2 separate regions of the Homo sapiens genome follow, and region 2 is linked to region 1. Evidence: fine-mapped expression QTL. A gene starts in region 1. The other region holds a variant in brackets. All regions are shown on one strand. Distances are from middle to middle. Region 1 holds the start of CACYBP (calcyclin binding protein). Region 2 overlaps RABGAP1L (RAB GTPase activating protein 1 like).

Region 1 (5,382 bases):
TTAACTGGGGGAAGCAGTAAAGGCTGCCTGCAATAGGACAACTGAATGAGAAATAATTTCATTTTGAAAGGAAAATTATTCCAAACTTTGGAAACAAGGCAAAAAGGTGAGTGGCATGTCCTTTCAGTGTCAAACCAAGGACTAGGGGATTGTACTTTGTTCATTTCATCGTTCACTATTGATTTAAAAGTCCTATACTGAATCTATACATTAACTTGTAGATTTTTGTCCAGTAAGAATGCAAATCCCTACTTCCTTTCCAGTGGAACAGATAACACCAAAAGTTATAGTTTATTACCCTGTGAGACATTAACAGGTTTATATCTAACCTTGCCACCTTATACTAACATTACATTGTTAAATTGCCTATAAATACCTGGCTACTCAAATACACTCTCAGTAACTAATAAGTCGAATAAAGTATTTGTCACATGTCCATTTATATTTGCATAATATTGTCTGGAAAAGCCTCCCTTAGTGTTACTTCTGAAAGACCTAAATAGAGTGAAGAAACGATCTGTGTGATGACCTAGAGGAAGAGGATTACAGGTAGAGAGAAAGCTGGGTACAGACTTGGAGGCAAGAGCAAACCCAGTGGGTTCAATGAATAAGTAAAGTGCCAGACTGTTTAAATCAGGGAGCGGGGAAGGAAGAGTGGTGAGAGATGGGTTCTGACATGAAGCTCATAAAGGTGAGATAAGATACGTAAAACACTCAAGTTCACATTAAGGAGTTTGTACTTTATTCTAAGCCTAATAGGAAGCTGTTAGAGGTTTTTAAGCAAAGGGATATAATGATCTGAAAAGATATCTCGAGCTGCTCTGTGGAAAACTAACTCTTAAGGCACAATGGGGAAGCAGAGAAATCAGTTAGGAAGATAAATTTCAGACAAAATAATGATGACTTGGACCTGGGTGCGTAGGGTAAGAAATATCTTTTCCTTCTACCCATTTTAGGCTCACTGGCTGGGGATCCTGTAACAAAAGACAAATTAACAAGAGAAAAGCATAAATATTAATGTTAGTTTTACATAACATGGAAACTTCATAAAGAAATGAAGACCCGAATAAATAGTTAACCTTAGTGTTGTTTAGAGTAGGTTTGAAGAAGAATGGAGAATTGTGGGAAAATGTGATGGGGCTAAAAGACTGTGATCTAAGGGTAATAAACTGGGGGAAACTTAGCAAGGCCTGATGTTCATATTCGTCTCTACGTCCCTGTGTTTTCAGAGATAAAGATGTTACTTTTATTCCAGGTATAGACAGGGCAATTCTCACATGAGGGTATTACGTCCTGCTTCAGAGCAGAAAGGTGCAAGAAAGTTAGAGACATTCCTGCATATGTTCTTTCTCAAATTCCTTCAGTTCAAAGTATTCAATATGTCTAGGTGCCATATTTTTGGGTAGCATGTCCCAAACCCCGTCAGGTGGTAGAAGCAGAGGTTGTGAGAACTCGTTAAATTCGCTACATATTTTGAAGATTAAGCCAGTAAGGCTTGTTATATAAGATGTAAGGCCTGAGATAGAAGACTCAGGTATGAGTCCTTAGCCTGAGCAATTAAGAGAACGAGGTAACTGTTCACTGCATTAGGTCCATGGGATATTTGTTTTTATTTAATTATGTACTTAATAATTCCAGGCTATTGGTTGGACACTTAAAAAAATTTATACGATAAAATACACAGCTCTTAGGAGTTCATCCCATGAACTTTGACAATTCTATGTATCGGTGTAATATTTCCATTACCTGGGCAAATTCCCCTTCGCCGGGCCTTAAGCATAATCTACAGAAAAAACTACGTACATAAATATACGTTTACAACTCAATGAGATTTCTAAAGTGAACCCACCTATCTATAATCAGTGTCCAAATCAAGAAACATTACCTGAACCTCAAAAGCCCCCTGGTGGCTCTTTCATGTCATTGTCCTCCCCACTATGCTCATTAACACCATGGGCTAGTTTTTAAATGGAACCACGCAATATGAACTCTTCCATGTCTGGCTTCTTTCCCTCAACTTCATTTTTTTGTGTGAAATTCACGCATGTTGCGTTTCGGTAATTTATTTTTGTACTGTACTTCCGATTCTTTACTACAGATAATGGTCAGCCTCCATTCCGCTAACAGCTTTTTTTCCTCTCCGAGTTGCTGATTCTAATTGCTGCCTTGGACGATCTATAAAGCTGAGTGCGCGCTATGTGACCTCTCAGGGGTCGCTGCCTTGGACGATCTGTAAAGCTGAGTGCGCGCTATGTGACCTCTCAGGGGTTGTTTCCAACCGTGTTGTTGACATCTTGAGCCTGCCAAGGACTAGAATAATCTGAAAACTAGGCTTCTCTGGGGGTCTCACTGAGTGACAGGGTTAGAACCAGAAGAGAACATCGTCTCCAGAAGACATTTCACCATTTTCTTTGATGGTAAACAGGCTCACTTATACCGAATCCAAACCCAGGCGAGAACTACGGACTCTTGAAATGGTCGGTGAAAGGGGCGAAAGCACCAGGAAATCGTGCTTCAACAGTCCATGACTGAAAGGAGGGCCTGAAACTGTGGCCATAGGCGGGCCCTTTTGTTAGGGCCTTGACCTGGGCTTCCGCTACAGGGCCCGGTCACGAGGCCAACGTAGCTCCACCTCCTACGGCGGCCAGTGATGACGCCACCACGTCGGAACTGTTAGACCGCGGTGACGTCTCCACCGCGCCAAACTCACTGAAAATCAAACCGCTACCATTAGGAGCCCTCCACGCTTAACATATCCGTTCTTTCTCGTTTGAAAGTAACCAGGCTGCTCCTCCCCATTTTTCGCCTTCTTCTCGCGGAGGCTGAGAGACTAACCTTACACAACATGGCGGCCTGGTGTGTCTGGTGTCCTAGAGCGGACGAAAGCAGGTGACTCTCTAGTCAACTTCCGACTTGGACTCCGAAGATCGGTACGTTATTTCCGGGGCTGGGTTAACGCAGCGGTTCCGAGCTGCGACTGCGCAGCGTGGCCCAGCGCGGTCAAATTATAATACATAAAAGTTGTCAGGGCGGAGAGCAAGACATTACTCTTCTCGGATTGCCGGTTCGCTCGCGAGACTTGAGCGTTGCTAGGAGATTCGGCAGGCGGGCGGAGCCAGACTCGGCGGGGCGGGGAGGGGTGGGGCTAGGCTCGGCGAGGCGAGGAAGGGTGGGTGGAGCCAGGCTTGGCGGGCTGTGCGTGCTCGCGGTGGGCGGTGGCGGCGGCTGCCTCGCGAAGGTTCGAGATCCGTCGCGTGCGGGAGGCGGGCCGCGATCTTGCGCAGGGTCGGTGTGGGCGCAGGCTGCAGCGCCGCGACTCGTGCGGGTAGGCGTCTGCGCTCGGTTTGAGGGCTCGGCGCGGGGTTTCCTGTTCCTCCTTCTGCGCGGCTGCAGCTCGGGACTTCGGCCTGACCCAGCCCCCATGGCTTCAGAAGAGGTAAGTGGTCCGGCCCCATATTCCTTATGCCCCCCGGCTGGAGCTGCAGCGCCAGCCTCCCGCCCTACCGCCGTTTCCGTGGGCTGAGCCGCCCTGCGGCCACCCGGTCCCGCGCCAGTCAGTGCGCCGCCTTCCCGGGGGACACCTCACTCGCCCCTTGCTGCGCCGTCGGCTCCCCAGCGCTTCCACTCGACCTCGCACCCCACTCGCCTGCTGGGCTCGAGCGGGGGTGTGCGGCGATTATCCGTGCAGGCGGTGCGGGGAGTGGGTCTGGGAGAGCGGCCCTTTGCGCGTGTTCCTCAGGCCCTTTCTGCCCTGGTTTCCCAGCCAGTGGACAGGAAGCTTCATTCAAGCAAAGCTGGGTGCAAACATGAGTGTCGTTCTTGGTAGAGGGCGGTTGGAAGGTGAGTTCTCAGTGCTAGCACTTGAATTCTCCTAGTCAGGTTTTCTCTACACACGAGGAGCTGTGTTACTCTGGGCAAGTTGTTTAGCTTCTCTGTGTCGCAGTAGCATCCATTTCATAGGGTTGTTAAAAAATATGATTTCTAGGTGTTTAAGTCAGTGATTGGCAAACAGCAATCTGCTGTATGTGATTTTTAAAATAAATAACTTGGAAAGTTAGTTGTAATTAATAGTAAGAAAGCGAATGGCCTGTGTTAAAGCTCTGTAAACTCTGAACGTTGGAGAATTAAATTTTGTGGAGACTTAGTTTGCTCAGTTAGAAAATGGGAATGATAGTACTTGTATTGCTCATTTCCTGGCGTAAGTGGGAGGTGAAGACGGGACAGTTATTCACAGTTAAGTGTTGGGTGTGTATTAACTAGATTTGCTTTATGAAAACAAGTACTGGGGAGTCCCAAGCTTTTGTTTTGTTTTGTTTTTGTTTTTTAAACTCAAAATCTTTTCTTTAAATGAAGAAAAACTATGAGGTTTGTGTGTTCCAGTATTAATCTGGGTATCTTGTGACAAGTCTTTTAAGGTAGGTCTTGGGTACTATGTGCCCCTAGGAGATAACTTCACAGTCTTGCAGGTGGATAGCTCAGTGTTAGTCCTCTTGAAAGTAGAGATCGTTCTCAGTTTAGGCACTTAGAAATATACATTTGAGGGCACTTGATTTTTGTTTTGTTTGAGATAAAATTCAAGTTTTTAACCATTTTAAAGTGTACAATTCAGGTATTTGTTTTTTGTTTAAATATATTCACAGTGTAGTGCAGCCATCACCACTGTCTAGTTTCAGGACATTTTCATCACTCCAGAAAGAAACCATGTAGTGTGTTTTAAACAATTGCTTCCCATTCCTCCCTCAGCCCCTGACAACTACTCATCTTGTACTTTCTGTGAATTTGCCTATTGTAGGCATTTCATATAAATGGAGTCACGCTGTATGTGGCCTTTTGTTTTTTGGCTCCTTCAACTTAGCACTAACATTTTCAAGTTCATCCATGGTGTAGCGTGTATCAGTACACATGCTCTTTATGGCTAAATAATATTCTATTATATGCATGTGGCACATTGTGTTTATCCTTTCATCCGTTTATGGACATTTATTTCCACTTCTTTGTTTGAGACGGAGTCTCGCTCTGTCGCCCAGGCTGGAGTGCAATGGCGCAATCTCGGCTCACTGCAATCTCCGTCTCCCGGGTTCAAAGGATTCTCCTGCCTTAGCCTCCTGAGAAGCTGGGATTACAGGCGCGCGCCACCATGCCCGGCTAATTTTTGTATTTTTAGTAGCGACGGGGTTTCACCACGTTGGCCAGGCTGGTCTCGAACTCCTGATCTCAAGTGATCCGCCCGCCCGCCTCGGCCTCTGAAAGTGCTGGGATTACAGGTGTGAGCCATGGCGCCTGGCCTTATTTCCACTTCGTGACTAGCATAAATAATGCTGCTGCGAGTACTGTATCCAAGTTTTTTGTGTGGATGTGTTTTCAGTTCTCTGGGGTATATAC
Region 2 (5,382 bases), 180 kb before region 1:
CCAGGCATGGTGACATGTGTCTGTAGTTTCAGCTACTCAGGAGGCTGAGATGGGAGGATTTTTTGAGCTTGGGAGGCATGGGTTGCAGTGAGCTAAGATCATGCCACTGCACTCCAGCCTGGGTGACAAGAGTGAGACCCTGTCTCAAAAAAACTCCAAAAATTATCTGGGCATGGTGGCACATGCCGGGAGTCCTAGCTACTTGATTGGCTGAAGTGGAAGGTTGGCTTGAGCCCAGGAGTTGGAGGCTGCAGTGAGCTATGACTGTGTCATTGCATTCCAGCCCAGGTGACAGAGCAAGACTCTGCCTGTCTCTAAAAAAAAAAAAAAAAAAAAAAAAAAGAGATAGTCAGCAAGCCTGAGAGTAAGTATGGGAGAGAGAGAGATGAGTAAGTACAAGAGAGAGAGATAAGAGGATGTTGAGACTAAGATGGATTTTTGGAGGATGGGAAAGATGAGTCTTTAATGCTAAAAAAATTTCCAATGACTCTTAATTTCTTCTTTGAGCACCTACTATATGCCAGGCATTGTACCAGATAGACCCAGGGAATATGAGATTGAGCAAAAGCACATATGCTCTCAGAGCTCATGGAATTCACAGTGTTAATTTAATCACCTTAATAAATGTATACTTACAGAGTGAGATAAATGTTCAGAAGAGATATAATAAAGATATATGAGAGCAAAGAGCAAAGGAACCTGACCTTGACTCAATGATCTAGAGAAAGCATTCTTGAACTGAGATTACAAGGTATTCCAGACTGAAAAGCAGCATATGCAAAGCCTGTGAAGAGGGAGAGAATATAGTAAGTTGTAGAAACTAGGAGAAGGCCAGTTTGACTGTACTTCAGAGAATGATGACAGTTGATATCCAGGGACCAAACCACTTCATCTACCAATAAGAAGGAAAAGCCCACAGAAAGAGAAAAGTTAAAGATTAAATAAAGAAAGGGAAATATATTAACAGGAAAAGGACTCTGAGGAGGTAAGGGATTAACCTCAAAAGAATGGACCTTTCATTACAAGCTGGAGGGAATAGGCAAGGGAAGGATGGGGAAAATGGTGAATGTGTAGTTTGGTGAGGAAGAAATTGAGGATATTTCATTTGAAGTTTTCTATTGTTTCTGTTAAACAGGATCTAGGATGAAGGGAATGCAGTAAAGTGACAGCTTTGAGAAACATGGAAGAGCTTTTAGACTGGAAAAACTCAAAAGAACAGCTAGTCTATATTGTTGTAGACTATGAGTTCATAGTGGCAAAAATCTACAGTGTTTTGTAATTTTCTTTAGAAACATTTAGTAGTCCAAATGTATATATGAAGAAGACAGAAGGTTATTTTAACCACAGTTGAGGTTTGCCAATATGAGGCAAAGGAAGGACATGGGGCCAGGGCAGTTGTGCTAATAAACTGTATATTGGGTTGGGGAGTAAGAGGGAGTAGAGAAAGAGGTATCCCTGATTTGTAGCGTTTGCCCATTTCCATGGTATGAATACTCCCACCATGGCCAAATTTCAAGCTACCAATGACTTAACCGCCCCACTCAATTTCTGAATATTAAGAGCCACTTTTGAGCTGGTAGTTTCTGACACTGGTACACCACAGGGTTGAGGAGATGAGGCTAATAGCAGGAGAGTGGTTGACATGATGGGAAATGGAGTCTAATTAATAGAAAAGAGAGTGAAGATAGATGGGACTGAAAGACTACAAGAAAAGGGCCTGGGAGAAGGGAACAAAGAATTATTGGACTCAGGAAGAATGGCGGAAGAGGAGATTAATTCCCTTATTGGGGGTTACCCAAGATAAAAAGCATCTTTTTCTCAAAAATTCATATATTTTAAAGAGAACTTTCTGATACTAGAAAGTAATATTGCCCTGGGCTCGCCCCTGTAATCTTAGCACCTTGGGAGGCTGAGGCGGGCAGATCGCCTGAGCTCAGGGCTTCAAGATGAGCCTGGCCAACATGGTGAAAACCCGTATCTACTAAAATACAAAAATTTCCCTAGGCATGGTGGCACGTGCCTATAATCCTAGCTACTCAGGAGGCTGAGGCGTGGGAATTGCTGGAGTCCGGGAGGTGGAGGTTGCAGTGAACTGACATTGCACCACTGCACTCCAGCCTGGGCGACAGAGTGAGACTCCATCTCAAAAAGAAAAAAAAAAAAAAACTGCCCTGTGCTCATAATTTCCAGTGATCGCAGCAAAACCATGCCAATTACTATTTTGGCATTCATGGCCACCTCCTATGATTTACTTCTCTTTGTCCTAATAATTCTGCCACCATCACTACCATTTTACTCTGATCACATGATTAAGAGTTGGAAATGCATTGTGGGAGGAATAGACAAAGATGGCAGAGGCAGTGCAGGTAGCGGGAATGAGGGAATGAGGAAGGGCACTCATGGTTAAAAACAGAATCCTGACCCAGCATCTTCTCACACACCAAAATTGTCTTCCTACCCCGTGCTAAAGAGGTAGCTACCAATGATAAGATGTTACTTATCACCTACTTGCCTCAGAAAATTCTAAGCTCTGCTCCAGCTCAATTACCTATATATTGTGCTGGACTATTTTCTACTCTCCCAAAGTTGCAAATACAATTTGATCTTACCCCTCACAAATCATGTTTTTAATGAGACAGTGGTAGATTCCTTTATCTAGAATTTAATTTTTTTTCTCCGAAGACCTCCATATTCATAACTGGATTTGAATGTTTTTGAAAATAACTTTCACAGTAGAGCAAAACTGTAAAGAACAATTGCATTAAAAGCAATTTACCTCTAATTTCTTCATGCTGTTTGCTATTTATTCCTGGCTGTTGTTGCTGTACGTGAACAAGAATGTACTCTCTGAAATAGAGGCTTTCTTTGAATTAGCACTGAGGTCCTACAGAAGTTTTTGTCAACTTCATGGATCTAAAATGTGTGCTTTTATGTACACCATTGAAAAGATTCACTTTTGATTAAAACACATCTTGTGTTCCTTTTCTATAAAGACCTCTATATGTTGACAACCACATTTGAGTTGTTAGGTTTAGTGTCATAATCTTCTGCTGGAGAAATGTTATCATGTTATAGGATACAGATGTGATAATTAACACATTGATAATAAAGCTGGGTGCGGTGGCTCACGCCTGTAATCCCAGCCCTTTGGGAGGCCGAGGCGGGTGGATCACGAGGTCAGGAGTTGGAGACCAACCTGGCCAACACAGTGAAACCCTGTCTCTACTAAAAATACAAAAATTAGCCGGGCATGGTGGCGCACGCCTGTAGTCCCAGCTACTCGAGAGGCTGAGGCAGGAGAATCACTTGAACCTGGGAGGCGGAAGTTGTGGTGAGCGGAGATTGCACCGCTGCACTGCAAGCCTGGGCAATGGAACAAGACTGTGTCTCAAA[C/T]AAACAAAAAAAATTGATAATGAAGTAGTTTCTATATCAAAGCATTTGCCACTGTTTGCCTTTGAGACTTCTATTAACACTCATAGTCTTCAGTGCACCTTAGATTGGGGTATTGTTTTGTTTTATTCCCAGTGAGCAGGGAACATGTTAATGTTGGACATGTTCTGAAACAGTTGATAACAGGCAGAGGAAACAGGTCAGAGCTCCAGATGCTTAGGCATCAGGCACCTTCCACATTTAAAAAACTCAGCTTTTGTGGCCCTTCCTAATCAGCTAGAACAGTGGTCTCCTACCAGGGATCATTTTCATGGAAGACAATTTTTCCATGGTGGAGGGGGAGGGCATTAGATTCTCATAGACAGAGCAGTCTAGATCCCTTGCATGTGCAGTTCACAATAGGGTTCACGCTCCTATGAAAATCTAATGCTACTGCTGATCAGACAGGAGGCAGAGCTCAGGCCATAATGCTTGCTCTCCCACGAGGCACCTCTTTCTGTGTGGCCCGGTTCCTAATGACCGGTACTGGTCCGCTGCCTGGTGGTAGGGACCCCTGAGCTAGAACACATTTGTCTTCTTTATTTGCTTCTGCCATTTTGTTTCTACCCTGTACCTACTTCTGCCAGTCATTTTCTGGCAGTTCATTAAAAAGAAAGCCATACATACATTTTAAAATTAACCTGATGGGTAAACTAATGGATATAAAAATTGATTTATATTTGGGCAACTCTTTTCTTAGAAAAACAAATAGTAAACCATAGGAATAGAGCATTATGCCTTTATAGACGTTCCAAAATTGGAACTATGTGCATTCCATGCATAATTAACAACAAAAAGAACATCAGAATTGCTATCTCACCTAGTAGTTTATTTTTCTTCAAAAACTTTAAGTTTTCTTTTTTTCCCTGCACCTAATTCACGCCCAGCAGTCTTATAATGGATCAAAACCTAATGATTATGCTCTTAAATAAGAGTTTCCATATTTTGTTTACCTTTCTGAAGTGTTTTGCCAATTACCTTTTATCCAGTAGTTGTGATTTATATCTATCAGAGTTGCCATAACGTTAGAACTTGTCTTCACTATTGGGAACAGCAGTAATCAATAATTTTCCCGCAACCATTTACCGTGATTCTACATTTCTTTGAATTATTTTATTTATTTATTATCACTTGAATTCATATTAACATTATGTTTAAAGTGTGCTTCATGATTTGTATTTGGGGATCCGATTTACAGAAGAAAAGAAAACATTCCTCTGAACCCTTGTTGCTTCTCACTGGAAATAATTTCATTATGTTAGGCAACAATAAAAATAAATGAAGAGAGGTTGGTTAATGAGCACACAAGCATACACTTTGATAGAAGGAATAAGTTATAGTATTCAGTAGCACATCAGGGTGACTATAGTTAATAATTTATTGTGTACTTCAAAATAGAAGATTCAAAAGGTTCCCAACAAAAAGAATTGACACATGTTTGAGGTGATCGATATCCTAGTACTCTGATGTAATCATTACACATAGCATTCAGGGAGCAAAATATCGCATGTTCTCCATAAATATGTACAATTATTATGTATCAGTAAAAATAAATTAGAAATTGGCTGGGTAAGTGGCTCATGCCTGTAATACTTGCCTTTGCCTCCCAATACTTTGGGATACTTTGCCGATCACTTGAGGTCAGGAATTTGAAACCAGCTTTACCAACATGGTGAAATCCTGTCTCTACTAAAAATACAAAATTTAGGCCAGGCGCAGTGGCTCACACCTGTAATCATAGCACTTCGGGAAGCCAAGGTGGGTGGATCACCTAAGGTCAGGAGTTCGAGACCAGCTTGGCCAACAGGGTGAAACCCCGTCTCTACTAAAAATACAAAACTTAGCCAGGTGTGGTGACACGTGCCTGTAATCCCAGCTACTAGGGAGGCTGGGGCAAGAGAGTCTCTTGAACCAGGAAGGCAGAGGTTGCAGTGAGCTGAGTTCGCTCCACTT

Evidence for each region. PIP is the estimated chance that this variant, and not a neighbour inherited with it, causes the effect.
Region 2: its variant is the best candidate, but not a certain one, in a credible set for the expression of CACYBP in whole blood (INTERVAL, PIP 0.50).

The regions. Positions count from the first base shown.
Region 1 is chr1:174,996,760-175,002,141 of GRCh38, forward strand. It overlaps CACYBP (calcyclin binding protein), which reads left to right and starts at 3,188. Exons shown (of 6, transcript NM_014412.3): 1 at 3,188-3,436. The coding sequence starts at 3,422. LOC105371622 (a long non-coding RNA gene) reads right to left here and starts at 2,887. Exons shown (of 2, transcript NR_188647.1): 1 at 2,836-2,887; 2 at 720-974. RefSeq lists enhancers at 2,309-2,518, 2,461-2,997, 2,549-3,058 and a silencer at 3,089-3,208.
Region 2 is chr1:174,818,872-174,824,253 of GRCh38, forward strand. The region is part of intron 19 of RABGAP1L (RAB GTPase activating protein 1 like); the gene reads left to right. Among named protein-coding and RNA genes, the nearest start is that of RABGAP1L-AS1, 130 kb to the right of the region's middle. The variant C/T (reference allele first, on the strand shown) is at 3,394.